Regions from separate parts of the Homo sapiens genome. Here region 2 is linked to region 1. The links come from fine-mapping of genetic effects on gene expression. A gene starts in region 1. The other region holds a variant in brackets. All regions are shown on one strand. Distances are between the middles of the regions. Region 1 holds the start of MAPK9 (mitogen-activated protein kinase 9). Region 2 overlaps GFPT2 (glutamine-fructose-6-phosphate transaminase 2).

What was found.
Region 2: its variant is fine-mapped to the expression of MAPK9 in whole blood (TOPMed, PIP above 0.99).

Annotation. Positions count from the first base shown.
Region 1 is chr5:180,285,678-180,300,692 of GRCh38, forward strand. It overlaps MAPK9 (mitogen-activated protein kinase 9), which reads right to left and starts at 6,406. Exons shown (of 12, transcript NM_002752.5): 1 at 6,171-6,406. LOC124901151 (a long non-coding RNA gene) reads left to right here and starts at 6,555. Exons shown (of 2, transcript XR_007059085.1): 1 at 6,555-6,623; 2 at 9,294-9,576. RefSeq lists silencers at 5,922-6,111, 6,242-6,611, 6,622-6,961 and enhancers at 6,884-7,526, 13,368-13,868.
Region 2 is chr5:180,314,482-180,329,496 of GRCh38, forward strand. It overlaps GFPT2 (glutamine-fructose-6-phosphate transaminase 2), which reads right to left. Exons shown (of 19, transcript NM_005110.4): 7 at 13,796-13,857; 8 at 10,335-10,414; 9 at 9,707-9,824; 10 at 4,312-4,475; 11 at 2,482-2,577; 12 at 2,283-2,380; 13 at 1,860-1,980. Among named protein-coding and RNA genes, the nearest start is that of MAPK9, 30 kb to the left of the region's middle. RefSeq lists enhancers at 8,648-9,333, 14,368-15,015. The variant A/T (reference allele first, on the strand shown) is at 8,257.

The DNA of each region.
Region 1 (15,015 bases):
TGTGGGAGGCCGAAGGTGGGAGGATCACTTAAGCCCAAGAGTTCCAGACCAGCCTGGGCAACATGGTGAGGCTTCAACTCTATATTAAACAATAATAATAATAATAATAGTAAAAATCTGGCCGGGTGCGGTGGCTCACACCTGTAATCCCAGCACTTTGGGAGGCTGTGGCGTGTGGATCACGAGGTCAGGAGACGGAGACCATCCTGGCTAACATGGTGAAACTCCGTCTCTACTAAAAAAATACAAAAAATTAGCCGGGTGTGGTGGCGGGCGCCTGTAGTCCCAGCTACTAGGGAGGCTGAGGCAGGAGAATGGCGTGAACCTGGGAGGCGGAGCTTGCAGTGAGCCAAGATCACACCATTGCACTCCAGCCTGGGCGACAGAGCGAGACTCCGTCTCAAAAAAAAAAAAATAGTAAAAATTTAAAAAGTTCTATTTTCCTACTGTAATTCTTTATTCTTTCTTTTCTTTTTTTTTTTTTTTGAGACGGAGTCTCGCTCTGTCGCCCAGGCTGGAGTGCAGTGGCATGATCTCGGCTCACTGCAAGCTCCGCCTCCCAGGTTCACGCCATTCTCCTGCCTCAGCCTCCCAAGTAGCTGGGACTACAGGCGCCCGCCAGCACACCCAGCTAATTTTTGTATTTTTAGTAGAGATGGGGTTTCACTGTGTTAGCCAGGATGGTCTCGATCTCCTGACCTTATGATCCGCCCGCCTCAGCCTCCCAAAGTGCTGGGATTACAGGCGTGAGCCACCGCGCCTGGCCTCCTACTGTAATTCTTATGAAGAATAGCTTGGTATAACAACGTAATCTTTCTTTGATAATCAAGAACCTTGCAGCTCTCAGGGCCATCCTCTGTAGTTCTTAAGCCACAGTATATACCACAATACAGAACAACTAGCATTTGGTTATCACTTCACCCACTGTTGGATCCATAGGACCCTGCAAGGATCTCCGTCACCAGCCCCACTTCCAGGCACCCAGGCCTGCCTATTTCCCTCTCAATCCCCCACTCCCAGGGCCCTGGGTAAGGGCTTCTCGTGGCTCCTTGGACCAGCGACAGCAGAAGCATTCTCCCAGCCACCATTTCTGTGACTTCCGAACCACTGCACACATGCCACTTTAGAAAGAGAAATCACTCCACGTGAGAATATGTACACAAATGTTCACAGCAGCTTTATTTTTAATAGTGCCAAACTAGAAACAACCCAAACCTGTCCTTCAATGGGTAAATGGTTAAACTAACTGCTGTATACCCATACCATGGAATACCACTCAGCAACTGCTGAAACATACCACAACTTGGGTGGATCTCAGGGGCAGGATAGTCAACGAAAAAAGCCAATCTCAAAAAGTCACATCCTGTATAACTCCATGCATATAACATTCCTGAAAAGACAAAAGTATAGAGATGCAGACTAGATTAGTACTTGCCAGCAGTTATGAATGGTGGGGAAAAGGGGCTGCTGTGGCTGTAAGGGGGTGGGACAAGGAGATATCTGGGATGATGACATAGTTTTGAATCTTGATTGTGGTAGTGGTTATAGGAATTTTCACACGATAAAAAATGACAATGAACTCTATACACCTTGCTCCGATGCCCAATGTCCTGGTTTAGACATTTTACTACAGTTGTGTAAATATGTAACCGTGGGAGAAAGCTGGGGGAAGGGTACTGGGACCTCTCTGTGCCATTTGTGCAACTTCCTGTGAATCTATAATTATTTCAAAATATGGAAAGAAAAAAGAGAGATTTGTTGAAAGTGTGCAGTGATCACACCATTCTCCCATTTGAACTCCTTCAACAGTGACTGACTGCCTGGAGAATAAGATTCAGTTCCCTAGCACAGCACAGGAGATGGCAGTCCTCTGGCCCAATCTTAGGCAACATCAAACCACCTGGGATCAGCGGACACACCCAGCTACTGCACACCTTCAGGCCTCTGCCTAAGCTGTTCCATCTGCTTGAAATGACTTCCCTCCCCTTTTTGACCTGCTGGTCAACATTCACCCTCCTTCAAAAATCTAGTTCAAGCACTTGCTTCTCTTACATGTTTCCTCCTCCAGCCTTTCCCTTCAAACCATGCTGGGCATGCCCCCATTTTTGCCACCCTCCCAGTATTCGCTTTAGATTGCATTCCGAGTCTACTTACACTTCTACTCTGTAAGGGCAGAAAATGTGTCTGATTTATTTCTCAATCCTCTACTGATTACACAGTGGGTGCCCAAAAAATGTTTGTTAAAGACAAAGCTAAATGGGAGAAAAAATGCGGTAGGGCAGCTGGGAGCAGTGGTTAAGATCGGGACTTTGACTTCAGACTCCCAGTGGGTCTGCTATTTATCTGGGTGATGTGCAGCAAGCGATTGCACTCATCTGCAACACGGACGAGCAGAGAGCCTCAGGGTACCTCTAGATAAGAAGTGCACAGCCCACTTAGGAAGGCATCTTGATGCAGGAATGCACCCTAAATCTGACGAAGCCTCGTCTAGATCCAATTACTAACTTACAGAGATTACAGAGAAACACATTCAATTACACTGCAGAGATGCAATCAATCAAATACCAACTATGGAAATGCTAAGGAACAACTCGATTGCTTCAACAAATAAACTACCAAGAAAACAAAGAAATAGGAGGGGGATCTATGGATTAAGAGAAACTTAAAAGACGTATCATCCAATCAACAACGTATGGCCTTCTCTTGCTCTACTTTCAAACTATTAAGGAAACCTAAAATTCATGGGGCAGCTGGAAATTTGAATATTGACTAGTTATTTGATGATATTAAGCAATTATTACTTTTTCAACTTTAAAAGAGTCAGTACCTTTAGAGACCTACCGAAGTGTGAAGTATAACTACTGTACACCTCCTGAGCACCCTGAGGTTGTGCCCGTATGTTTTACAGATGAGTGCAATCGCTTCTGCACATCACCCAGATAAGCAGCAGACCCACTGGGAGTCTGACTCAAAGTCCTGATCTTACCCACTGCTCCGAGCTACCCTACCACATTTATTCTCCCATTTAGCTTTGTCTTTACCAAACATTTACTGGGCACCCACTGTGTAATTAGTATCCCAAAAAATAATGAATGAAATGACATGATATTTAGGATTTGCTTGAAAATAATTATGGGTGGTAAGGGTGCAAGTGGATACCATTAGAGATGAAACAAGATTGGTCAGGAGTTAATAACTGTTAAAGCAGGACACTATTCTGTTTATTTTGTATATGTTTGAAAGTTCCCATAATAAAAGTTAAAATAAAAAGAATGATGTTGAAACTGGTTCATACAATCAAGTACAAAGTATCAGGAATTAATTATTCTGAAGGAAAATTATGTAAAAATGGCACCTTCCTAACCAAGTGTGAGGTGTAACTACTGTATGTATGTAGACCAAAAATAGTTGCCCTATTGGCAAATCAATAGTCTCAAGAAGAAAAAAAATCTGGTCTCTGTTTTATCTTATGCCTCATGAAAACAACTGGTTTACTCGCTATTAACTGGTTTGTCTGGTCCTTTTCTTTATCCAGAAAATTAAGAATATTTTATCTTAGACACATTCAAGTATCCCCTCTGTTGTTTATTTACGGGACCAAATAAACAGATTTTAATCTGTGAACAAATTAAAGTCCTGGCACCCTGAAAATTAAATTGCCAGGAAAATCAAAGCTGTCAAAAGAGAAGTCTATGCAAAAATAGTATTGTTTTTAACTCTGCAGGATCCTTTTGAAGAAAAAAAAAAGTTAAATGGAGGAAAACATTAAATAGATTGGTGGTCATTCTTCCAGAACAAGTTAAAAGCCAAAAGAGAATACTCAGAGCTGAGGGACCCAGGAAAGAATCCTTATCTGGGAAGTGATCTGGGTTCGAACTCCACTCACCAGCTGCTTGCTAAGAAACAGACTACTTAGACTCCTGAGCTTCCGTTTCCACAGGGCTCCAGTTACAATCAAATGAGTATCTGGGCTGGCACCTGGGCAAACAGGGCCTGGCTCCCCTGGCCTTAGGCTACCTTTCCTGCTCTCCTCACAGCTCCTCCCTCCCACACAGCCAGTCCTGGAGGATGACGATCCTGCAACCAAGCTGAATGAATCTGTATTTGGCTTGGCTCACAGCATTAAAAAAAAATTTAATTAGCTATTGCCAACATTTAAAAATCAGAACAAATGTGGAGTGCTGCCTTCCTTTTTAGAGACAGGGTCTTGCTCTGTCACCCAGGCTGGAGCACAGTGGTGTGATCATAGCTCACTGCAGGCTCCAAATCCTGGGCTCATGGGATCCTTCCACCTCAGCCTCCCAAGCAGCTAGGACTACAGGTGGATGCCACCACACCTAGCTAATTTCTTAAAATTTTTTGTAGAGACAGATCTCGCTACGTTGCCCAGGCTGGTCTTGAACTCCTGGCCTGAAGTGATCCTCCCACATCAGCCTCCCAAAGTGTCTTGAAATTACTGGCGTGAGCCATGGCACCCAGCCAAATTCCACCTTCTTCTAGAAAACTGCTGGGTAAGGTTCCTGTTCTTTAGGGTCCCCACGACTCTGTGTCCTTACACCTGGCCCTCCAGACTGATTCTCAACTCCACAGTGGCCTACGGTCCTTCCTTGGCCCTGCTCCTTCACACCTCTGTGCCTCTCCCTGCCTAGCAAATTTCTTATCACCCTCAAGGCCCCCCAGCACCACCTGTCACCTCCTCCACATTTCCATGGCATAGCCCCTCCCCTATAGCAAGGGTTGTACAGTCCTGGAACTAAGTGTCTGCATGCCTGCCTTCTCTACTGGGCTCCTGGGCTCTCTCGGGAAAGGGACCCCGTTGCTATCTGCCTTGTGTCCGTAGGGTCTAGCAGAAAGCATGACCTAGATAATGCAGAATTCAGTAAATGTCTCTTGTATGTGTGGAAGAAAGCTACAGCTAAACTATTATAAAAATGTGAGATTTTATATCACAGCTTGTTCCAACAGTTAGCAATTAAAGGGGTCAAGGACACCAAAATGTTTCACAAAATAGAACAAGCTTCCATCTGCTTACAAGTTTCACACGCTAATCAGAAGTCACTAAATGAACAGATAAAGCAGAGACAACAGGCAGGCTGGGCCATTTCTTTGATCATTCATTCATTCATTGAGCTGATACTACTGAATACTTCCTGTGTGCTTTCTAAGCACTGGGGATAAAGCAGTGGACAAATCAGACAGCTACCTGTTTTCACAAAGTTACATCCTAGTCGGGGAGACAGAAAATAAGCAGGCAAATAAATAGAATAGTTTCAAACCAGATGAGAGCTAGGAAGGAAATTTTTTAAATAATGAAATAGCATGACTAAGGGAAGAAAGAGGGTGGTCGAGGAGGGCCTCACCCAAAACGAGACATCTGACCAGAGGAAGGAGCAGAAAGAGCTACTTGTGCCAAGATCACGGAGACAACTCCAAAGACGGGGAAACAGCAAATGCAAAGGTCCTGGGGCAAATGCGGGCTGGCATGTTCAAGGCGGGCGAGATGAGTGGGACGGGGCAGCAGTCTTCTGGGGGAGGGGCGCGGTGGTAAGGGATTCGGGCTGGGTCCCCTCTGGCACTGCTGGACACCGAGTGTGCAATGACAAGGCAAGAGAGGAGTGCGCGGGGAGGCGGGAGGCTGGGCGGGTGGGGAGGGGGTTCCTACACCACTCACACCAGCACGGGCCAGCACCCTGCCCAGTCTTCCACAGATGCACACCGGGGTCCTGCCCAGGCGTCTGCATACATTCACACAGCCTGACAACAACCCTGTCCAGAAGAGACATTTCCCCACCTTCCCGAAGGCAAAACCGCGGCAGAGCGAGGGTCAGTGCCTTGGCCAAGGTCGCGGGGACGCGACCCCGGGCCCCTGGGCACCCGGCGCAGGAGTGCAGCTGTCTGCCCCACCTCCGGGAGGGATGGCGCCCGCAGACCCCACGGGCAGGTCGGCCGGGCCAGGCCGGTGAGCAGGCCCGCAGCCCGGGGCTGCTGACAGCCGGGCGGAAGGGGGCGCCTGCGGCATCCCCCAGCACAGGGGCGACGGCTGCGGCTGCCAGGGCCCCGCAGCCCCCGGCCCGCCCCGAAGCCCCCGGCCGCGCGGTTCCCTCACCGCCCCTCCCCGCGGGCCCGGCCCGAGCAGCCGCCGCCAGGCCTAGCCCGCCCGCCGGGCTCACCTCGCCTCCCCGCCGCCGCGCCACGGGGAGAGGGCGGGCGGGCGGACTGGCGGCGCTGCGTGCTAGTCACTCCTGGCTCCGCGGCCCCGGCTCCGCCGCCGGCCCGCCCCGCTCCGCTCCGCCCCGCCGCCGCCGCCGCCGCCGCCGCCGCAGTGGGTGTGAGGGGCGCCGGGGCGCTGCGACCCTTCCGGTCCCGCTCCCTTCTCCGCCGCTGCCGCCGCCGCGGCGCCCGGTCTGACAGACCCTCGCGCCGACCAATCAGCGCGCGGAGAGCGGAGCAGGCGCGGCCAATGGCGCCTGGGGGGCGGGCCGATGGAGGGTGGCGCGGGCGGGGTCGGGGGCCGGGTCGGGCGCCCGAGGTCCTGGGCCGGGGTTCCGCGGGTTCTTCGCCCCCGGGCCTTTCAGTGGCGCGGGCCGAGTGGCCATGGCGCTCGGGTGCGCGCAGTGCACGCGGTGAGCTGGAGACGCAGGCATTGCGCGGCCCACCGGCTGAGCCCGCTCTCCCTGCGAGGGGGGCGCAGCTCGGTGGAGAGGGTGGCCCGGAGGACCGGGAACCGGGCTGGAGGCGCGCGGGGCTCACACCGCGGGGTCCGCGGGGAGCCGGGCCTCGGGCTGCAGGTGCAGGCTTGTGGCGGTGAGGCGACTGGAGCGGCACGGGAGCCCGCCCGTTTCGGGGAGAGCCCGGGGCGATCGCGGGGGGAGGCCGGCCTGGCGTCCGGGAGCCCGGCGTGCTAGGGCCCGGTAGGCGGGGCGGGCCTCGCACTCGGTTGCTCGCTGCGGCGCCGGAGGAACGGGTCTATGGGGGTGTGGGTGAGGCCAGAAGCCGGGTCGAAGAGGGGGAGGGGGTGCGAAGAGATGGCGGTGTGTAGACAGGTGACCCGGTGGGTCGGTGACGCAGGAGGAGACTGCGCTTGGTGGCGGGATCACTTAGTTGACAACATCTAAAAATTAGGAGGTGCGGCAGGGCGCGGTGGCTCACGCCTGTAATCCTAGAACTTTGGGAGGTCGTGGCGGGTGGACTACCTGAGGTGAGGAGTTCGAGACCAGCCTGGCTAACCTGGTGAAACCCCGTCTCTATTAAAAATACGAAGCAATGAGCTGGGCGTGGTGGCGGGCGCCTGTAATCCCAGCTACTCGGGAGGCTGAGGCAGGAGAATCACTTAAACCTGGGAGGCGGAGGTTGCAGTGAGCCGGGATTGCGCCATTGCACTCCAGCCTGGGTGACAGAGTGAGACTCTCTCAAAAAAAAAAAAAAAAAAAAAAAAAAAAAAAAAAAAAAAAAGGGAGGTGCTCAGTCAAGCCTCTGAGAGGAGTGGGGGGCGGGGCGAGGAGTCTCTTGCTCAGAGCCCCCTAGGGACTGGGACCCGTTGACTCTGAGCTGCTTTTGAGGCTGGATCAGGTACCAGCGGCCTGGGGGTCGTACAGGATGGGAGAGGCCGGGGCTTGGGATGTTGCCAGATCTACGTTGAAAAGTGAAGCAGGAAGAGAGGCACTGAGGCTGGGCACATGGGGAAAACCGTGGAGAGCCGGCCTTTGGGGACTAGAAGAGTGGGAACAATGGTTGACAAATGGTGAGTGTGGTGTAGAACAGCAGTAACACAATACCAGGATCCACAGAGTGGCCAGGGCCAGAGTGGGGAGAAGGAACAGGACTCTGCAGATGGGGAGGGTAAGGGGCTGGGTGGCGTGAAGGGTGGTTGCAGAATTTGGGGAGGGCAGCTAGCCTGTGACCCAGGTTCCAAGGGCACTGAGGTCTGGGCCAGGCCGCTTGGAGGCACCAGAGCCTCAGAGGAGGGGTGGGGTAGAGGAACGGATCCAGCATGGTGTCCCCCTTGGCCACCAGAGGGAGTTTTCTAAATTTGAGCATGGCTCATCGCTGCTTGAAATTCTACGTCACAGTGTGGCCTGCATTGAGGAGGGCCCACACCTGTCGCTACCTCAGACTCACCTGCCACCTGCCTCAAGTGCATGAGAGAGAACAGGAAACCAGAAATTGTCAGGATCGAGGATTATGGGAAAAGAGTAAAAGCCTAGCTGTCAGATCTGAGGTTCCACCAAGGAGCACTGATGGGTGCTTCTCATTAGGAAGGCGGTGCGGTGGCTCACACCTGTAATCCCAGTACTTTGGGACGCCGAGGTGAGTGGATCACCTGAGGCCAGGAGTTCGAGACCAGCCTGGCCAACATGGTGAAACGTCATCTCTATTAGAAATACAAACATTAGCTGGGCGTGGTGATGGGTGCTTGTAATTCCAGCTATTCAGGAAACCAAGGCAGGAGAATAACTTGAATCCACGAGGCAGAGGTTGCAGTGAGCCGAGATTGCTCCACTGCACTCCAGCCTGGGCAACAGAGCAAAAACTGCATCTCAAAAAAATAAAAACAAAAAAACAGAGGGGACACCAGTTCCCAGCACTCCAGGCCTAACTTCATAGCACTCACATCATGTCAAGTGAGTAACCAAAAATCAGTGTACATATGTACACAGCTATACATATCTCACACTAAGTTTTCTGTAAGAGTTCTTTTTATTGCAGAGACACTGCTTTTTTTCTGGTTTATGAAATACAGTGAACATTTATGGACACAAAGCTGAGGTGACAGGGTGGGGAGGGGGGCCTTGGAACAGCACCAAGAATCCTGGTTGAACCCTCCAAGTGAAAAGATCCTGCCACGACATACGTGAACCAGGTGTGACACGTGAGCACGTCTCACCTGATCCGGCCTATGGTGGGGAGAAGCAATTGAGGAAGGCCTTCTGGGCAGGAGGAAGTTGTTGCTGAGGCTGCCGAGCAGGATGTGTTGGGCCTGTGACTTAGGCAGAAAGGGCGCTCAGGCCCACATGCTCAGATGTGAGGACCTGCTTGCTGTGTTCAGGGAGCCACAAGTCACCTGGTCTTAGGGAAAGGTGAGGGGACTGGAGAGTTCTGAGGACCTTGAGGTAGATTGGCACTGCCAGGCATGTAGGCTGGCTTTAGCTCACTGATACGCCTTGTTCAGCCCAGAGAGGTTTTCTTTTTTTAATTGATTAGTTGATTTAAGAAACATTTAGATTTGGGATGAGCTGTTTTGGATGTTTATCCTCAATGAAACTCATGTTCAAACTTAATCTCCAATGTGGCAGTACTGAGAGGTGGGGCCTCTAAGCGTGGTTGGGATTAACCTGTCGATGGATTCATGGATTAAAGGGTTATCACCGGAGTGGGACTGGTGACTTCATTAGAAGAGGAAGGAAGACCTGAGCTGGCCTGTGAATATGCTCCGCCCCCTGGCCATGTGACACCTGCGCCACCCTCAGGACTCTGCAGAGTCCCCAGCAGCAAGAAGGCCCTCACCAGGTGCAGCCCCTCAACCTTGGACTTCTCAGCCCCCAGGGCTGTAACAAATAAATTCTTTTTTAAAGTAAATTACCCAGTTTCAGGTATTCTGTTATAAGCAACAGAATAAGAAACAGACTAAGACAAGAGCACAGCGGGGTGGAGGAGCTAGGGGTGCCTGGGGCATTGGGGACCTGTCCGGAGGCCAGCTGTGTATGCAGCCACAGTGCCAACGGGTTTCTGTGATCCTGATATCCCCCACCCTTGACTGGCCTGGATTCCAATCCGACTCTTGTCAGCTGTGCTCCTCTGGGCAAGGGATTCACTTCTGTCTGCCTTGGTTCTGTAGGAAGTGGCATGGAGAAGGACAGAAGCAGGAAGAGCTGGGTGCGGCCCATGCAGCAGGGATGGTGTAGGTCCTTATGCTGACTGCCTCTGTCCCCTCAACACTTTGCCTGCCCTCCCCCCATTGCACTAACCCACATCTTCCCTTCTCCCCTACAAGGACCCAGAGATGTGCTAGAGGGTGTAAGTCGGGGCTGTCCCAGCTGTGTGTTGTAGAAAACTAAACTGCACTTAAACCAATGGGGACGTTTACTGGGAGGTGCCTGTAACATCATACCCAGGGGAGGTAGGGGCAGAGCTGGTCTGGAAACTCTAGGGCCATGGAGGCCACTGCAGGCCCAAATGGAGTTTGAAAACCCACAACAATGGACTCTGATGGTCCCCCAGACAGGGCTTCCATTCTGGAACTAGTCAGCCATGCTGGGCAGACAGGCTCATGTGAGGACATGGCAGGGAAGGGCAGAATTGGGAAAGGCAGAAGTCTGGAAGTTTCTTCCATGGTGATGATTAGAATGAGGGCATCTGAGCTGGGGCGCAGCTGAGGGTGTGGCACTGTATGGAAACAGGGTTATTTGGGGGCTGTATAACTGAATGCTGAACCCAGTGGCCCTTAGCCCTCCTCCTCCGGGAATCCCCCAGAGCACCAGCAGCTGGGACTGTCCTCAGGCAGGGAGCCAGCAAGCTGTTCTCCAGAAGTCTGACCAGCCCTGAAGGGAAGACCTGAGGTATGAACATTATGACACCCCCACCCCCACCAGATTTCCCAGCAGTGAATCCTGCATCAACCAGCCCTACCATGCCTTAGACCTTCCAGTCAGCCCCCCTTGAATCTGAACAGACAGCTCCATGTCATATGGCTAAGAAAAGTAAGACAAAAAACTGCATCTTGAAAGAAACAGACTCTGTGGAGAAGGAAAATTCAAAAAATAAAAATAAAACTACTGCTAGCTTCAGAGAGAATGAAAAAATATTGCATCCTTCAAACAAGAACCAGCCATTTAAAAATTATGCAGCACAGGTGTATGCAACATGGCCTTGCTCTGTCAGCTGAGATGGCCTAGAAGCAATGACATCTCAGCAGTGGCTGACACACCCAGAGCCCAGATCTTGTTCTCTAATGTCATTCGCCATAAAAGGAACCAGGGATCCCTGGAGAAATGGTTGATTCTAGGGCTGGGACAGGGGATGGACAAGACGAGCCTGGAGAATATTGTTGTGCAGGTAAGGAAGTACTTACAACACACACACACACACACACACACACACAAGGAAGTACAACACACACGTAAGAAAGTACACACACGGAAGTACTTACCCCCCCCCCCACACACACACGGAAGTACTTACCACACACACACACACACACACACACAAGGAAGTACAACACACACGTAAGGAAGTACACACACGGAAGTACCCCCCCACACACACACACGGAAGTACTTACCACACACACACACACACACACACACACAGATGGGGCTATGTCAAAGAGACACAAGAGCCAACTGAAAGAGCCCCCAGTGGCTGTTGCTGGAACCATTGGAACAACAAACTAACATAGTATTGGGCATGACTCAAAATATAAAATAAATATCTATGGTTCATTCTAATAGAAATAATAAATGGGGAAGAATAGAAAAGTTTGTGGCCGGGCACAGTGGCTCGCACCTGTAATCCCAGCACTTTCGGAGGGCGAGGTGGGCGGATCACGAGGTCAGGAGATCGAGGCCATCCTGGCTAACACGGTGAAACCCCATCTCTACTAAAAATACCAAAAAAAATTAGCCGGGTGTGGTGGCGGGCACCTATAGTCCCAGCTACTCAGGAGGCTGAGGCAGGAGAATGGTGTGAACCCGGGAGGTGGAGCTTGCAGTGAGCCGAGATCACGCCACTGCATTCCAGCCTGGTGACGAAGTGAGACTCTATCTCAAAAAAAAAAAAAAAAAAATATATATATATATATATATAGTCAGAGCAAAAAAAAACCCTCGAAAAATTAAATCATGTTGGCAGAAATGAAAAATCTTAGTAGCAGGTTGGGAGATAAAATTGAAATCTCTCAGTAGGGCAAAAAGACAACAAATGAATGATAAAAAAGATAAGAAATTAGAGGCCAGTCCAGCAGCTTCACCCTGGGAATAATAGACACTCCAGAGACAGAGAAACAGAGAAATCCACAACAAAATAATTCAAGAAAATTTCCTAGTCTGAAAGGCAAAAGTTACCAGATGCAATCAACCCTAAATGAAATGTGCTCTAGGCAACTTGTGGTATTTCAGAACACAGGAAACAAAAAAGAGACCAAAAGGTCACCTACAAAGACATCAGACTTTGGACTCAATAGCAGCACTGGGAACAAGACGATGAAGCACTACCTTTAAAATTCTGCAGGAACACCTTTTTCTGACCTAGAATTGTGTGTTTAGCTAAACCCTCTATCAAGTATAAATAAAAAAATCATTTCCACACCTGCAGATTCTCAAAAAACTTGCCTTCTGTTGTGGCCTGAATATTTGTGTTTCCCCAAATTCATATGTTGCAATCCTAACCCCTGCCACATGTGATGTTATTAGGAGGTGAGGCCTTTGGGAGGTGATGAGTGTGAGGGTGGAGCCCTTATGAATGGGATTAGTACACTTATCAAAGAGGCTCCAGAGAACTCCCTTGTCCCTTCTGCCATGTGAGGACACAGCAAGAAGGCTGCTCTGTACAAACCAGGAAATGGGCCCTCACCAAGACTCCACATCTGCCGGTGCCTTGATCTTGGACTTCCCACTGTTGAGAACTGTGAGAAAGAAATGTGGGATTTTTATAAGGCACCAGGGCTGTTACAGCAGGCTGAACTGACTTAAGACACCTCTCAAGCACCTTTTCTCAAGAATGGGCTTCACCAGAACAAAAAAGGAAACTCAGAAGAAGGAAGACACAGATACAGAAAACAGGAGCCCAGGCCGGTATGGCAGCTCACGCCTGTAATCCCAGCGCTTTGGGAGGCCGAGGCAGGTGGATCACGAGGTCAAGAGATCGAGACCATCCTGGCCAACATGGTGAAACCTTGTCTCTACTAAAAATACAAAAATTAGCTGGGTGTGGTGGCGCACGCCTAGAGTCCCAGCTACTTGGGTGGCTGAGGCAGGAGAATTGCTTGAACTCGGGAGGCAGAGGTAGCAGTCAGCTGAGATCACGCCACTGCACTCCAGCCTAGCAACAGAGCAAAACTCTGTCAAAAAACAAGCAAACAAACAAAAAAACAAAAACAGGAACCCAACACAGAAGACATGGCCTGGGAGGCCCATGGAGGGTGGCGAGAAGTGACCCTGAGGTGATGGCTCTGCACCAGACGTGGAGAGCGACTGAGCCATACTGAGCAGCGTGACCCACGGGGTGAACTGTCTTCACCAAGACCCCACCTCCATCAGGCCATCTGTAGCCCGGGGACAAAATGCCCAGGAGAGCCTGGCCTAGGTTCTTGGCGGTACTTGGCTTGGCCATGTGCCGACGAGGGGCGCTCCCCTCCTCTGCTGAGGACGCACAACATTCACAGAAGTTTCCAGCTTTCCCCCCACCGAGAGCTGGAGGCAGGCCGTGGCGAGCTTAGAAGCAGGACGTACAGGTCAGCCCCCTCCCTCTGACTATTTCCACTGCAGGTCCAGCGCGTGGTCCCCACCTTGGCCCTACCAGGTGCCTGACTGTGCTGAGCCCAAGACTTCCTCGAGACCTTCCTCATGACTTCCCCAGGAGGGGCCTTGTCAGTTCCCAGAGAAGCAGGGGTCAGACCACGACCTGGAGACTGATCTGCTCACCTCCTGGAACCTCCGTCTAGTGGAGGCAGTGCCGCCCTCTCCTTGCACCGCCAGCATGCACTCACCCTCCACTTTCGAACTAGGCAGTGTATTTGGGGGATAGATACACAGGTGAAACTATAAAGAAAAGCAAGGGAACAATTGGCACAAAAGTCAGAATGGCCGTCGCCTCTTGGGCATAAGGATGAAATACACTTTCTAGGTCTTGTCCAGAGAAAAATGTTCTGGCTAGTTTGTAGTCTCCTAATCTTGGAAGTTGTATTGGTCATGGATTGATTAGTAGGACAGAAACTATTCTAGCCATTTCCCTGGGACTGACCCAGGGCCTGGAGGACAGAAGTCAGGAAAAGCCCCTGTGGCACCTGGTTGCTGCCAGCTCTCCAGAGTTGGGATTTTAGAGGAGCCACAGGCGACCTCTGTTCATGGTCACCACTGCCTGGCATGCTGAGGTGGGTGCGTTTTGGGGAGCCCCTGAGGGCCACAGCAGAACCCCGTTTGCTGAAGCAACATTTCTATCTGCTTCTGCCAGAGATAAATACAAAATATGATTTCTGCCACTCAACTATCTTCCAAGTCTCCCATGAATGCCTCTCACTGGTGGATAACCTAGAAATGTAGCTCCCAGCTTTCCAGCCCCTGTGATACAGGTGAGGGCATAGGACAGAATGGTGGATAACTGGAAATGTAGCTCCCAGGTTTCCAGCCCCTGTGATACAGGTGAGGGCATAGGACAGGATGGTGGATAACTGGAAATGTAGCTCCCAGGTTTCCAGCCCCTGTGATACAGGTGAGGGCATAGGACAGGATGGTGGATAACTGGAAATGTAGCTCCCAGGTTTCCAGCCCATGATACAGGTGAGGGCATAGGACAGGATGGAAATTTGCTGAGTAGCCCATAGGTAATCCTGGACAGGGTTTATGAGATACTAGGGCTACACACACCCGTTGTCATGAAGACATCATTCAGGTTGTGTGTGACAGCACTTACGTAGGAAGCCTAAGTTCTGACTTCACAAAACTTCAGAACTCTCTGGCTTTCAATCTTTCCATCTGATTGTATTAATGAAACCAGGGACTATAATAGCCTTATTGGGAAAAAAATACAAATTTGAGAGTTTCACCCCTCTATGCTGTCTACAGGTTCTGCCCAACCCCTTCCAGGTTCAGTGGCCCCTCTGCTGAGTCCCAAATCTCTTGGATTTGTTGTATCCTGGACAACAGCCCTCCTTTTCCTACTAGAAACCCATAGGTCTCAGGTGTGGACGAGGCCAATGTTACTAACAAACAGGGCTGCCCCTCCAAACACTGCCGAGCTCCTGCACAGTCCTCAAAATTCAAAGTACACAAAAAGAATGAGGTTAACAAAATGCAAACACAC
Region 2 (15,015 bases), 29 kb after region 1:
CAGCTTCATGCATAAACCAGCACAAGCTCCCTATGTTTGTGAGTCCTAAAGCACTCAAATTAAATTCAGCATAAGCCAGACTATAAAATCAAAACTGTTGAAATCCTCATGAGTCGGGAGGCTGTTCTGTTTGCAGGGCCACTGCTCTTGGCTGTGTCTGTCCCAGCTTTGCAGGGCAGGCAGGTGCCGCCCGGTGCTAGGTGGCCCAATTCTCCTCTGCTTTTCTTTCTTCAGAGCCCTGGGTTATGGCACTGGAGTGTCACGGGGTACTGCGGTGAGGGTGCGGGAAAGGGGGTTCTAACTTCTGTCACCCGCGCCCTAGGGTTCGATAGTGTTTTTTCAATCTCATTAAAGGGCTGACTTCTATACACACAGAGATTCGGAAGCTGCCACTGCATTATTTTCATATTAGCTCCACCTCTGTTCTTTTGTTAATGTCTCCCACCAATTTATAAAATAGTCTGAGGCTCTGGTGGGATCAGAAACCCAAAGGTGAACACGGCAGCAGCTCCTGCGTCATAAGGTGGTGGGCCGGATGGTCGGTGTATCTGTACTGGTTTTTCTTCACTTGTCAACAAAATGGAAATGGTATTTAAAATGGAAAATGGCAGGAGTACTAAAAGTCCTAATAGATGATAGGGCATTACAATCAGTATTTTAGTTGTGGTAGTAACACCGTGGTCATACGTTTTTCTTTTTCTTTTTTTTTTTTTTGAGACGGAGTCTCGCTCTGTCGCCCAGGCTGGAGTGCAGTGGCGCGATCTCAGCTCACTGCAAGCTCCGCCTCCCGGGTTCACGCCATTCTCCTGCCTCAGCCTCCTGAGTAGCCGGGACTACAGGCGCCCGCCACCACGCCCGGCTAATTGTTTTATATTTTTAGTAGAGACGGGGTTTCACTGTGTGAGCCAGGATGGCCTCAATCTCCTGACCTCGTGATCCGCCCACCTCAGCCTCCCAAAGTGCTGGGATTACAGGCGTGAGCCACCGCGCCCGGCCGGTTATATGTTTTTCTTTTGTCATTTTAATCATGCAGCCTGAAGTATTTATATGGATGAATATCATGATGCCCGGGATTGGCTTCAAAGTAACCCCATGGAGACGAGGGGTTAATATGAGTGTGTCCGACCGGCACAAGATGGGCTGGATAAGGCTAGGATATTCATTATATGAAAATTCTACTTTTATAAAGGCTTGGAATTATCCGTAATTAAAACATTTCAAAAATCTTCCACGAGCTCAAGGAGACTCCAAGCCTATGGCCCTGGATCACCTCCCTGAGACAGCTGGAGCAAATGTCAAGCCCAGTGTTGGGATGGCACCAGATGGGGTGCATGTAGCTTGGGAGACCTTCCTTGGCCCTAAAAGGGAGCACTGTCTCCCCCACACCTCCCCCTGCTGGGCAGCATGGGCACTGCATGCCACAGGCAGCTCGGCTTGGACACTTGGGCACAGAGCCCATACTGGGTCCTCCACGTGACTCTCAACCTAACAAAATGTTAAAGGAGATGCTTTTTCTATTAACATAAATCAGCAAACATTTATGAGCACTTCGGTAAGTGGTCCTTGAAGTCTTGGATAGGCAAGAAGAGGGAGAAGCCACGGGGCAGGGGAAAGACTAACGTGCGTGGATTTCCAGCCCAATCCCAGCTGTCACCCCCTGACTGCATGGCCTTAGACATCTCTTGCCCTCCCCGTACAATGGCGACAGTAATCCATGGCTCTACGGGTTAAATGACCGCTGCAAGAGAGGGTTCGCAGCACAGGGTAGCCATGCAGAGGACTTAACTGAATGAAGGAGAAGAGGAGAGAGCCCAGAGCTGACCTGATGCAAGGCTGGCCACAATGCCTGTGTCCCTTACCTGACTGGCTGATGAAAAAGCAAACGTCATCCCTGAACACAGGTGTGTTCCTGTCCAGAAAATCACTAGCAAGTTCAACCATCACAGGAAGCTCAGTCAGTTCCTCCAAAACTTGCCGCGTCTGAAGCCAACAAGCAAGCATGGAGACTAAAGTCAGTCACAGGCACGACAGGGACATGGGGCAGCTGGGCTTCTAGGGACAGTTTGTGACACGGAACCTCACTGTCCAGGTGGCGAGGGGACTTCGGTCACCCACAGGCCACCTCGAAGATAAAAGGGCTCCGTGTCATTTCTCACGCTAGCTCATGGGAATGGGTACAAGGGCTTAGCCAAATTCAGAAGGCCACATGAGTGATAAAACTGAAGGCCAGTGTCTGGTCCTAGACTGCCGTCGACTTCCCCACGCACATGTGTCACACTTACAGCCACGGCAGCGTGGTAGCTGGTTCCACAGCCAATCACGATGAGCCGTCGGCATCGTCGAATCTCCTTCAAGTGGTCCTTCAAGCCACCCAGGAGCACTGCAGGGCACACGACAAGGCGTTAATGCTGAGTCTACACAGTCACCGCATTCCCTGAGACTAGGCTCGGGCGGAGGCTCCCCACCGAGTGTAGGAATTACCTGTGTTGGTTTCAAAATTCACCCGACCTCTCATAGTATTGAAAACTGATTCTGGCTGTTCGAAGATCTCCTTCTGCATAAACGCACTGAAGTTACCTGGTCAAATAAACGTCTGGTCAGTTTTAATTTCATTATATTTCACTGCTTTTCATTATGCAGCAGCGATAGTAACTCCTGTAAAGCTTACTGCAGATTCCCAAAGGCATCCCCAGGGATTACCCTGCCTGACACTCACTACCATCAGAGGGAAGCAGGTCAGGAACCAGGACTATCTCCAATTTACATATTGGACCCTGCAGCTTGAGAAAGGGAGGGATTTGCCCAAGGCATGCAAGTAACAAATGGCCTGGCTGATCCCTCTGGGCCATGCTCCCTTAGCAAGGCCAAAAGAAAGTAAAGTGCTTCACTCCCAAAAAGCCATCCAGCTAGGAAAGTACAGCTAAGCAGGCCCAAAGAAACAGGCAATTTTCCTTCTAATAAATACCCTCCTGGTTTCCGTAATAAAAACCTTTCCAGGCCGGGCGCAGTGGCTCACGCCTGTAATCCCAGCACTTTGGGAGGCCGAGGCGGGCGGATCACGAAGTCAGGAGATCGAGACCATCCCGGCTAAAACAGTGAAACCCCGTCTCTACTAAAAATACAAAAAATTAGCCGGGCGTAGTGGCGGGCGCCTGTAGTCCCAGCTACTTGGGAGGCTGAGGCAGGAGAATGGCGTGAACCCGGGAGGCGGAGCTTGCAGTGAGCCGAGATCGCGCCACAGCACTCCAGCCTGGGCGACAGAGCAAGACTCCGTCTCAAAAAAAAAAAAAAAAAAACCTTTCCAGCCACACAGGCATTTCCAGGGCTCTGATTTGAGTGGGATTGGATGGTGCTGATGGGACAATGGGGCTGCAGGGTGTTCAAGCCCCTGCACCTGATGCTCTGGAGGTACCCACAGGCAGGGCAGGCCGTGTTCTCTAGGATACGCACACTCATGACACCAACATCGCCCATGCTCCCGGCCTGTCTCCCATGACCTGGCACTTGTGCGACGAGCAAATGAAGCAAGTGAGGGGAATGAGGGGTGGCCACCATAGGGGAGGGGCTGGGGAGGGACCATGGCAGACACAGGAGCAGAGAAGGAGTCTCTGAGGGGGTGACATTTCAAGGGAGCTGGAGGCAATGAAAAGGAACCAGTCCTATGAGAAGAACAGCGAATGCAGGGGCTGTGGCGGGGCACAGTGGGACAGAGGGTTGAGTGTGGTGGGGCCAGGCTTTGGCCCCACTGGGGTGTGGGGTTTGTGGGCTGTGGCAGGGAGTTTGGATTTTATTCTAAGAACAGTAGGAAACCATTGGAGGGCCTTGAGCAGCGGGATGATCACAGGGGCTGATTCATGTTCTTAGACGTTTGCTCAGGCTGCCCTGTGGGGTAGAGGTTGTAAGGGGACAGAAATGGGTGCAGACAGAGAGGCTCTCCTTGTAGGGAGAAAGTGTACCCCCACCCCCCATTTACTGCAGACCTGCAGACTTCCACCCAGAGGAGAAATGATGCCTGAGGGTGGGCATGTGTCCCGCGGAGTCGGTGAAGGAAGGCAGCTGACACACTGGGCTCAGTTCCAGTAGGAAAGACCTGGCGGCTGGCTGCACACAGGAGCCCCCGCTTGGAGGTGCCAGGCCAGCCTCCCCACATCCCCTCACCTGTGCAAGCCACAGGCTACCTGCAGCCCCGCCCTGGTGGCCACAGAGGGCAGGAGGGCTGTGGCCTCTACTAGGACCAGGCAGAGTGTCAGGAGCTCCACCAGGCGCGCTGGCTCCCGAGGCTGCCGCACGTGGACTCTGGAGGACACCTGCCTTTCATGATTTGCTGCAGTTCCATCTGCAAGGTCTGGATGGCTCGAGATGGGTCATCACTGGCCGAGCGCTTGACCCGGTGAATGGAGAGTTTCCCATCAGCCACTGCGGCGATGTCATCGTCCTCCAGGAAGATGACCCGGTTGGTGTGCTCTATGATAGCGCTGGGGCAAGGGAAACAGGCATCATCAGTGCCCTGCCCTGAGCAGTTACGAGGCAGCAGCCCCTTGCTGGTTCCCAAGCGTGGAGGCCACATCGTTGGCATTTTAGGAGGGACAGAGAGACCACACTAAAAACATTGATTTGCAGGTGAATCTTCCTTTTCTTCTCCACTCTTCCCTCCTGTCCCCACGGAATTATTTTGAAGCCAGTCCCAGACATTATATCATTTCTTCTGTAAACACTTTACCATAGAGCTCTAAAACTATTTTAACCTACTATAATACCATAATCATATCTAAAATGAATAGTTGTTCCTTTATATCATCAAATATTCAGCATGTTTACATATCTCCAATAATCTCACGGCTGTCTTTTTATAACCGGTTTCTTCAAATCAGGATCCAAACAATGTCACCTCTGGAAGATACTCGAGAACCAACACATTATTCTGAATCGTGAAGGGAAAGAATAAAGCATTTATCTCGCCTTTCTAAACAATCTGTCTTTCAGAACAACCACATACTTTATGAAGGCAAGTTTCTCTAAGAAGTGATACAGCTAGTAATGAAGAAATAATAGAAGAATCAATTTATGAACTCCTAATTATTAATAGCTCTAATCAAGGACCATTCATGGCTGTTGAAACCAGAAGGTAAAAAGCTGGACGAAGCTTTATCATGGATGGATAAGGCTGGCAACACTCAAACCCCTGATGGCTCTTAGCACAAAAAGAGAGATGGTGAGACATCACCCGCCTCCTGATGGAAGGACACACCACCAACTATGTAGTCTTGCCAAAAAAAATCAAACCTGAATAAGATCGAGCTTTTAACACTTGTAAACTCCAGCGTACAGGAAACACAGGGGACAGAGGAAGATGGTAAATGACACCAGGGGTTGCACTCAGCAAAACCCAGACAATGGGAAACTCATCAGGACAAAAGACCTAGTTTCTTACACACACACACACATACACAAAGGAGCCCTAAAAGTAGTCTACAAGCTATGCTTACCAAAGAAACATAGGGTCATTGTGTTTATTTATTTATTTATTTTGAGACAGAGTCTCGCTCTGTCGCCCAGGCTGGAGTGCAGTGGCGCGATCTCCACTCACTGCAAGCTCTGCCTCCCGGGTTCACGCCATTCTCCTGCCTCAGCCTCCCGAGTAGCTGGGACTACAGGTGCCCGACACCATGCCCGGCTACTTTTTTGTATTTTTAGGAGAGACGGGGTTTCACCGTGTTAGCCAGGATGGTCTCGATCTCCTGACCTCGTGATCCGCCCGCCTCGGCCTCCCAAAGTGCTGGGATTACAGGTGTGAGCCACCGTGCCCAGCCCATTGTGTTTATTTTTATAACTTTCTCTGTATGGAAAAGAATAATGATTTTTTTCCCTTGAGATCATAATACAAAGTATCTTTTAAAATCATTTTAAGTTTGAAAAGTTGCTAAATGAAAAAGAAAGGTGATTAATGGTATATAGTTGTGGTATAAACCATCAGGTTGGGCTTGAAGGACTACTGGAGAAAACACTCTCGGCCGGGAGCCCTGGCTCACACCTGTAATCCTAGCACTTTGGGAGACCAAGGCGGGAAGATCACCTGAGGTCAGGAGTTTGAGACCAGCCTGGCCAACATGGCAAAACCCCGTCTCTACTAAAAATACAAAAATTAGCCAGGTGTGGTGGCGGGCACCTGTAATCCCAGCTACTTGGGAGGCAGGAGAATCACTTGAACCCAGGAGGCGGAGGCTGCAGTGGGCTGAGATTGTGCCACTGCACTCTAACCTGGGTGACAGAGCAAGACTCCGTCTCAAAAAAAACACTCTCATTCTATCAAGAGCCACACCCACACGTGACTGCCTGAAAATGAACACTTAAACTCCTGGTGCAAAGGTAAAGAGAGAAACCATCAAGGTCTAAGGCTCTAAAAGACGTATATCCAGCCAGATCCTAGGGAAGAAAGAGAAAGAAAGATGGCAAGCCACTGTACTGGAAAAAATATTTTAAACAAAACTTTGTATAAAAGTATACAAATAACTTCGTATGCTTTGTATAAAAGTGTACAAATAACTTCGTATGCTTTGTATAAAAGTGTACAAATAACTTCGTATGCTTTGTATAAAAGTGTACAAATAACTTCGTATGCTTTGTATAAAAGTGTACAAATAACTTTGTATGCTTTGTATAAAAGTATACAGAGCTTTATACAAAATTTTGTATAGAAATATATTTTTTTGTATAAAAAGTAGAAACATGGAGTGACAAGAAGTAAAAACGGCCCTATCCTGTCTCCGAGAGATCAACACTGCTTCCATTGTAGCATTAACCAACCAACAATGCATGACGCATGTGTGTTTATATTTATGTGTGCATGTACATGTTTGTTTAAATATAATTATTTTATTTCCAAAATGGGTAGTCATGTAATCTAGTCATTAAAACCAATGGCCCACCAGTTAGGCTTGAGGTGGACTCGGGGCCTCTGTCACTTGCCAGACCTGTGCCCGTGGGCAACATACATAACCCCCTGGAGTTCCTGTCTCAGGTTCCGCCTCTGTAAACAGAAAAGAGCTGTGCCTTCCCCAGAGGTCTGTCATGATTATCGCATGGGATCCTGGTGAGGCTCTCATACCGTGCCCCGCACACACTGGCCACCGTTGCCCAAAAGCTGGACAGTGTGCTCACATCTGGGAGGGCCACCTGCCATTCCTTTCTCAGCATGTGTTGTCTTTCTTATCTCTACACTACACGCGACAGAATCACTTCCTGAAGTTCCAAAGGCATAAACAAATAAAATAATATGGAGGGTTTTGTTTTGTTTTGTTTTGTTTTGTTTTGTTTTGTTTTGAGACGGAGTCTCGCTCTGTTGCCCAGGCTGGAGTGCAGTGGCGCGATCTCGGCTCACTGCAAGCTCCGCCTCCCGGGTTCACGCCATTCTCCTGCCTCAGCCTCCCGAGTAGCTGGGACTACAGGCCTCCGCCACCACGCCCGGCTGATTTTTTTTTTGTATTTTTAGTAGAAACCGGGTTTCACCGTGTTGGCCAGGATGGTCTCGATCTCCTGATCTCATGATCTGTCCGCCTCGGCCTCCCAAAGTGCTGGGATGACAGGCGTGAGCCACCACGCCCGGCCTGGACAGTCTTAATTACAGCACAGAATTCACAGAATAATTTGGGTAGAGTCAATATTTTTTAAAAATAACTTGTAATCATTAAATTAGTTTTAAATGTTGAGTGCATTAATTTTTGAAAATAGCTACTCTGGAAGCTGAGGCAGGAGGATCCCTTGAGTCCAGGAGTTAGTTCGAGGACAGCCTGGGCAACTTAATGAGACCCTGTCTCAAAAAAAAAAAAAGAAAAGAATAGTAAGCCTTCCTACTGAGGAATGTGGAATCTCTTCCTATATTCAAATCTCTTACTTCCTCATGGTAAATTTCTGTAGACTTCTCCAAATATGTTCTAGAGTATTTTTGTTAAAATTTACTCTAAAGCATTTTTTTTTCCAGCTGTGGTGAATAGTATTGCTTTTTTGGTTCACCTAACGTTTGCTGACTGCATCGTGCCTGGTCACGTGAGGTGACACCTGAGAATAAGGTGGACAAGGTCCCACTTGAACCAGATACAGCTTAGTGGCTAAGGCCAGGATATAGGATTTCCACACCTTTACTCCCAGCTGCTAGTACTATCAGTTCTAACAGCCTTTTGGCTGGATTTAAAAATGTGTAATAGTATTGCCTACAAATAATTATTTCCTCTCCTTTCAGGCATTCATGCCTTTTTTTTA[A/T]AAAAAAAGAAACATCTGGATGGGCGCGGTGGCTCACACCTGTAATCCCAGCACTTTGGGAGGCTGAGGAGGGCGGATCATGAGGTCAGGAGATGGAGACAATCCTGGCTAACACAGTGAAACCCCATCTCTACTAAAAATACAAAAAATTAGCCGGGCGTGGTGGCGGGCACCTGTAGTCCCAGCTACTCAGAGGCTGAGGCAGGAGAATCACTTGAACCCAGGAGGCGGAGCTTGCAGTGAGCCGAGATCACACCACTGCACTCCAGTCTGGGCGACAGAGTGAGACAAAATAAATAAATAAATAAAAATAAAAAAAGAAACATCTATCATATTTCATTGAATATAAGTTACTATTGATCGTTAAGATCACAATTATTTGACAAACTTCTAAGAAATAAAAGCTTCAACAAATTCTAATGGTACTATGCCAAAATCTACAATTCTCCGTGTTTTAGAATCACTGAAATAATACCAGCGTCTCGTTGGTATTCTCGGCGTGTTCTAAGGGGCACCATTTGGGAAGCGCTGCCTTGACCTCAGCGTTAAGTATGATGCTGGCTGTGCGTTTAATCAGGCCTCGCCTCCCTGTCGCTCCCGTTTCCCAGGAGACCCGGCCTGGTGTCCTCCCTGCCTCACAGCACGGCCCTATTAGAGGCTGGTCGGGAAAGAGAAAACCCATCAAGAATGGAAACATAACAAAGGCCCAAGCCTTTGGGTCTTTGAAGAAGGTACCAGAGGTGATTACAGCAGTTTTCTACTTCAAATGGCAGGAAAGTGCTCTGGTTCTCTCTCTCCCTCTCTCTCTCTCTGTGTGTGTGTGAGTGTGTGTATAACTTTTTTTTTTTCTGAAATGAGTATAAAGCAGAATTTCTCAAATTTCAAAATCATTATTCAGTGGATTGATGAGAGCATGGACTTTAGAATCAATTGAAAAACTCCCTGTGTCTTGGCTCTGTCTTTCACAAATGGTCTCACCCCAGGCAAAGGCAGGGAGGGGCATGGGAGGGACTGAGGTCTAGACACAGTTGTCTCATCTAAAGGGGGCAGCCTTTGAGCAGATCCAGACACCTGCCACCTGAGAGAGGGCTGCACAGCATGCCCCGATCTGCTAGTTCTTCCAGAGAAGCTAGAGATTTCAGATTTCTCTGTGAAATCTCCAAATTTTACAACATTGGCAACTAACCCATTCATTTTGTGCAGGCTCGAAGCACTGTGCCCACCAGTGCATCTGGCCTTTGGCCACCAGGGCTGCCTACCACAGTCATGCAGGTGCTCCTAGGACAAGGACTCCAGGCCCAGGCCCAGGGATGGCTGAACTCTTCTTTGGCCCTGCGACTTGCTGAGCCACGATAGCTCACATGGAAGGATGAATAAGAACCGGCAGTGTTTAGACAGGCATTCTTTGATTATGTAATCCCAGGAAGCGAAGAGAAGAAGGCTCAGTTACCTTGCATCAGAAGCAAAGAAGAATTCCACGGCCTTGTCGCCCACAGCATGCAGGCAGGCGGAGCTGTCCAGCCTCTTCATCCGTGTCTTACAGATATTCTTCACATTCTCCAGAGTGCCTAGCAAATGGAGGAATGGGTTGCAAATCCCACTGGGATGTTTTGTTTGCATAATATGCAGCAAGGAACCAATTTCCCCTCTGAATATGTGTGGGAGAAATTTGCAATTTTTAGCTTTGGCTGTGTCAGCCAAATCGTGTAAAAGATCCCCCAATAGCACAGTACCACTGCAAAAGCATTTAAATGGCTACAGTGTGAGAGGAATGCAAACAAAAACAAACCAAAGAAGCACTCACATCAAAGCCCAGTTGCCGTTATACAATGGCACTTTTGTGTATGTTTGACAATATACAAAATCATGATAAATTCATGTCCATGATAAAAAGCTTAAAAAAAATGGAGCCAAGTCTCAGTTGCACAAAAACCTTTTAGACCTGGAGCTGTGCGCCTGTTGGGTCTGGCTCAGAGTGGGGTTTCCTTGCCTCAGAGGGGAGCTGACTGTGCCAGAGCAGCTGCCGAGTCCTGCGACACCAGCAGCTGTGCTGTTCCGGTACTTCTTGAGAAACTTACACGTCCTGTATAAGATAGGGATCTGTTCTGTGGAGAGCTTGTATTTGCTCCGGACTCCGATGAGCAGGGGGCTGCCTCTCCTGTAGGGAGAAAGAGGCATCCCATTACCCATTGCCTTTGACGCCCAGTGCTGGGTGTCTGCCCAGCATCTGAGGTAGGATCCCCAAATCTAGCCCTTTCCCAGTGGTGGAGGATCCTGTTTAGGTCCCACAGGACGGACGCCTGGAGCACAGGATGGAAAGGCCAGCTCCTGAGTCCCAGGTCCCTGACTTGGCATCACCCACCTGCCCAGAAAGCTTGGTAACCTGTCTCACTCCCACCCTCCTAGGCCGGGCCTCCTCCAGTCCAGTCAAGTCCCCACATGTGACCAACCCACAAGGTTAGATGGCGGAGGCTGAGCGTTTGGCAGCAGAGGAGGCGCTGGTGGGGCACAGGGGCACTCTAGGTCTCCACCCAGCCTCGACGGCAGCGCATCCCTATAACAATAGGGCTCTGCACCCACCATCTGCCCAAAGACCCCCTGTTGTTCCTTCCCTTCCCCTAGCCCAGTTCTCTAGCATTAGTGGGCACTAGTCTGACTGACTTTTGTATATTCTCTACTTTGTAGGTGACATAAGGTGATTTCTTGGGTGGTTTTTTGTCTCTGCCAAAGTGACACCCCGTGGATGGAAGTTTAGAATCTTCACCCCGCACCAGGTAGACTTCATCATAAAGAGGACAATAACTGTCACAGGCAAAATCTCAGGGAGTCTGCAGCTGGCCAAGGTGAGGGGCCCTCACTCAGGCCTCCTGTCCCAGCGTCACTGTCTCAGCCACTGCAGCCCGGCTCTCTGAGCACCTCAGCAGGGGATCTTTAGGAAAGAGCTTTAGGATATTTCCTCTGATTCACAACTTCTAGTGGTGGACGTGATGAAGATCTCATGATTTGGCTGGGCGCACAGTGGCTCACGCCTGTAATCCCAGCACTTTGCGGGGCTGAAGCGCGCAGATCACGAGATCAGGAGTTTGACACCAGCCTGGCCAACATGGCGGAACCCTGTCTCTACTAAAAATACAAAAATTAGCTGGGCATGGTGGGGGGTGCCTGTAATCCCAGCTACTCTGGAGGCTGAGACAAGAGAATCACTTGAACCCGGGAGGCGGAGGTTGCAATGAGCCGAGATCGTGCCACTGCACTCCAGCTTGGGCGACAAAGCGAGACTCCATCTCTAAATAAATAAATAAATAAATAAATAAAAGGATCTCATGATTTAAATGATATCCTGATTCCAAAATCTAATCCTTTGCTCATTCTTATAAATTATAGCATGCAAATAAAATCTACCATAGGTGTGCACAGAAATAAGAGGCTCACTCTGGTAACACATGCGCTCTAAACCTGCGGTTCTTCAAAACCAGGCAGGTAAAAGTGCAGTAGTTACGAAAGGATGTGTGCCTTTCCCCTCTACACATTAATTTATTAATAAGAAGAAAACACCGACGAACACTGTAATAAGACAATTTAAGAGAGCTGTTTCAAACACATGAATTGGAATACAATCCAGTAACATTTTACCTTAGGTGATTTCTTGCTAACTTAGATCAATGAACTAATGAAGTGCTTGCTCATCGGCTTGAATCCAGTCCACATATATCCATAATCTGTTAGCCTGACTCAATGCAGTTCCTAAATTTTTCTTCAACAATAACAGACCTTGTTTTCCAGTCACGTTGGCCTGTTTGGACCCCACTTATGGCTTCTCAAAGCGGGGGACAAAGTCTGGGGCTTTGAGGAAGGTGCTATGAACACCTTGAATATTTTAATCATTTATTGTGTAAAGCAAATCTGAGACATAGTTCTGGGGCCAGTGGGGAACTAGCATAAATAGTTTATAATAATGGCAGTGAGAAAGTAGGTGGATATCTAATTTTCTTGGCAAATGACTCCCCCAAATTTTATTGCTGTAGGTTGAGCTCTGTGGTTTCTCTAGACCTTGAGACATATAATTCTCCCAAGACAACCCGAAGATTGTACTGCAGGTTATAGAGCCCTCAGTTATAGGCAATTTAGAAAAATAAAGCTTTATTGCTTCTTCACGCTGCCTTCTTCTGAGTTCATTTAAAATAGTAAATCATGATAAAATTGGATTTTAAAAAGGGCTTCTAAATTTGATAGGAACCAACTGGTATTTTATAATTCTATGAATTGAAGGAATTAAATTCCAAATGGCAAATTAGTTCCAGTTTTAGAAAAGGTTAAAAAAAATGATGATAAATTCCTGTTGTTTCCTGCTGAGATACTACGCCAGTCTGGAAGAGACAGCCTCACCCTCTCCGGCCGTCTCCCAGGCCACAGGTTCATTCCAGATGGCTCCCCTGGGGCTTCAGATGAAGCCCGCAGCCCACAGGGCACTGAGGCCATTTAGAGCCGGCCTCTGTCCGCCTCTCCACTCCCCACAGCCTTTGAGGCCCTGGAGCAGTGTCCATACCACCTTGCTCACCACTGTCTCCCATGCCTGGCACACAGCAGGTGTCAGTAAACACACACTGGGCCTAGAACGCCTCCGTCCCACCAATGCCCTTGCACCATGCCCCCACCTTGCCAACGGGGATCCTGGGAGGTCCCACTCCCTCTGGGCCCCTTGCCTTTGCTCATGCTGGTTCCTCTTCCCACTGCCTGCCTGGGGCTACCTGCCATTGCCCCCCTGCCAGGTAAGGTGATATCCTGTGCTGGGGCCGGGCACAGGGCATCACTATCCTCTGCCCTTCTCTGCCCTCCTGTACAACTGTTCAGCCCTTCAAGGCAGGGACCAGGTCAGATGTCACTAAGTCCCCAGGGCCCAGCACACAGTAAGTGCACAGTAAATATTAGTTGCATGGTTGGATGGATGATCAACCTATGTGAATATAAACAGGATGGCACTTAACCTGCTTCTGTAAATCCATGCAGCACTGGGGGCCCACCGTAACAGAGGGACACATTGGGGCAAGCAGGCTCTCTGAGCCGATTCCTGGCATGCTCCTTTGTGAAGGTGAAGCTTGAGCCCCGGGCCTTCAAGGCCTCTGCTGTACTGGATCCAAATCAATATTCACTTTGCTCCCTAGTTTCATGTTCATAATTTTGCTTTTTCTTAAAGGGGGGCCCACATTGTACAGGCTTCAAGCCCCACAAAACCTGGATCTGCCCTGTCTGTACGATTTTATTTATAACTGGAATTTGTTGCCCACCTCTAAAAATCTGTGGAGATTTCAAACACAAATCCAACTTTCTGGTTTCTTTTTTTTTTTTTTTAATTCAGAAGTGTAGCACCACCAGCCATGGAGATGGTGGGGCGCGGTCCCCGGGGCTGAGCCACAGTTGTTCTTTAGACACCACGAGCACCTTTCAGCGTGCCACAGGCCCTACCTCTCCCGTCTCCCTCCAGCTAAGTGATTTTATTTTCGTTCTTTCTTATGGGAAATGCCAGTGTGTTTTGCCTCACCGTGTGGCAACGGCTTCTCCTGGGTAGTGGACACTCTTGAAAACCAGCGCGAATGCACCTTCCTGAAAACACACAAACAGTGAGGGTCAACGCGTTCCAGCAGCCGCTGCTGCAGCCTGGCCACAGCCCAGGTGCGTCTCCCTGGGCCCCTCCTGATGGCGGGAGGTCCTGGGGTCCCTCGGGGAGCTGAGTGCAGAACAGCGCATCCGGGGTGACATCACGAGGGAAAGCAAAACAGACGGTGCCACGGGAAGTACCACAAACCAGAACATGTGAATTCCACGGTGAGCGATGTGCGGCTTGCCCAGGCCCACAGGGAGCCCGGCAGGGGTGCCAGCTGGGTAGACGGGGCAGTGAGAGTCACAGGAAATGATAGCTGGGACCAGGCTTCCCTGCCCTGCTCAGGGACAGCACCTACTCAGCAAGCCCCTGTGAAGTGCACTTTAGCTCAACACACGGTAGGGCCTGGGTTCAAATCCTGGCTCCACCCCTGCACTGGGCTCTCCCTTTAGCCTTCTTGGCGCCTCGTTCTCCTCATCGGTGAAGGAAGTGAGAACAGCGCCACCTGGCGGGGCTTCCGTGACGATGATAAGCTAATGCACTGAGCCTGGCATCCGGAGACCCAAGAGAAGCACAGGTTGTCATGACCGTTACTGCTATTATCCTTTCCATGGATACGACTGCCACCTGCCCTCTGGGCCTCAGCTGGTTGGTTTGTGCAAAGCCAGAACTAGAATCCAGCTCTCCTAACACAAGAGGCCAGATGGTTTTTTGACTTAAATTCTTGGTGTAAATTCTTCCCCCACGTCCTGACCATCCTGTACTAACTTACCGCAACCCTAGCAGAGCTCAGTTATATATAACCAGCTGCAAATCTGAATTTCCACAAGAAATCCTCCAAGTGTGGAAGCCACGGGCAGCCCCAGGCCCCGGGTGGTCAGCGTGTCGGGTCCAGGTTGCCAACTCAGCTACAGGGCCAGGAACCTGAGTCACCGTCCCCAGGCCTCATTGGGGCTTTCAAACTGCCCCAAACCAGGGGGCTTCAGGCAGACCCTGGTGCTTTTGTCAACAATAAAATAGGACTGAATGGAAAAACACTGCACGTTCTCTGCCAAAAAGAGCCCGGTACTGTCCCAGGTAGGAAAAGTCTTAAGTTTAAAAGTGTCATTATGAGAGAGGTATTTCTGAAATTTCAAAATAAAAATGGAAAAGAAGAAACA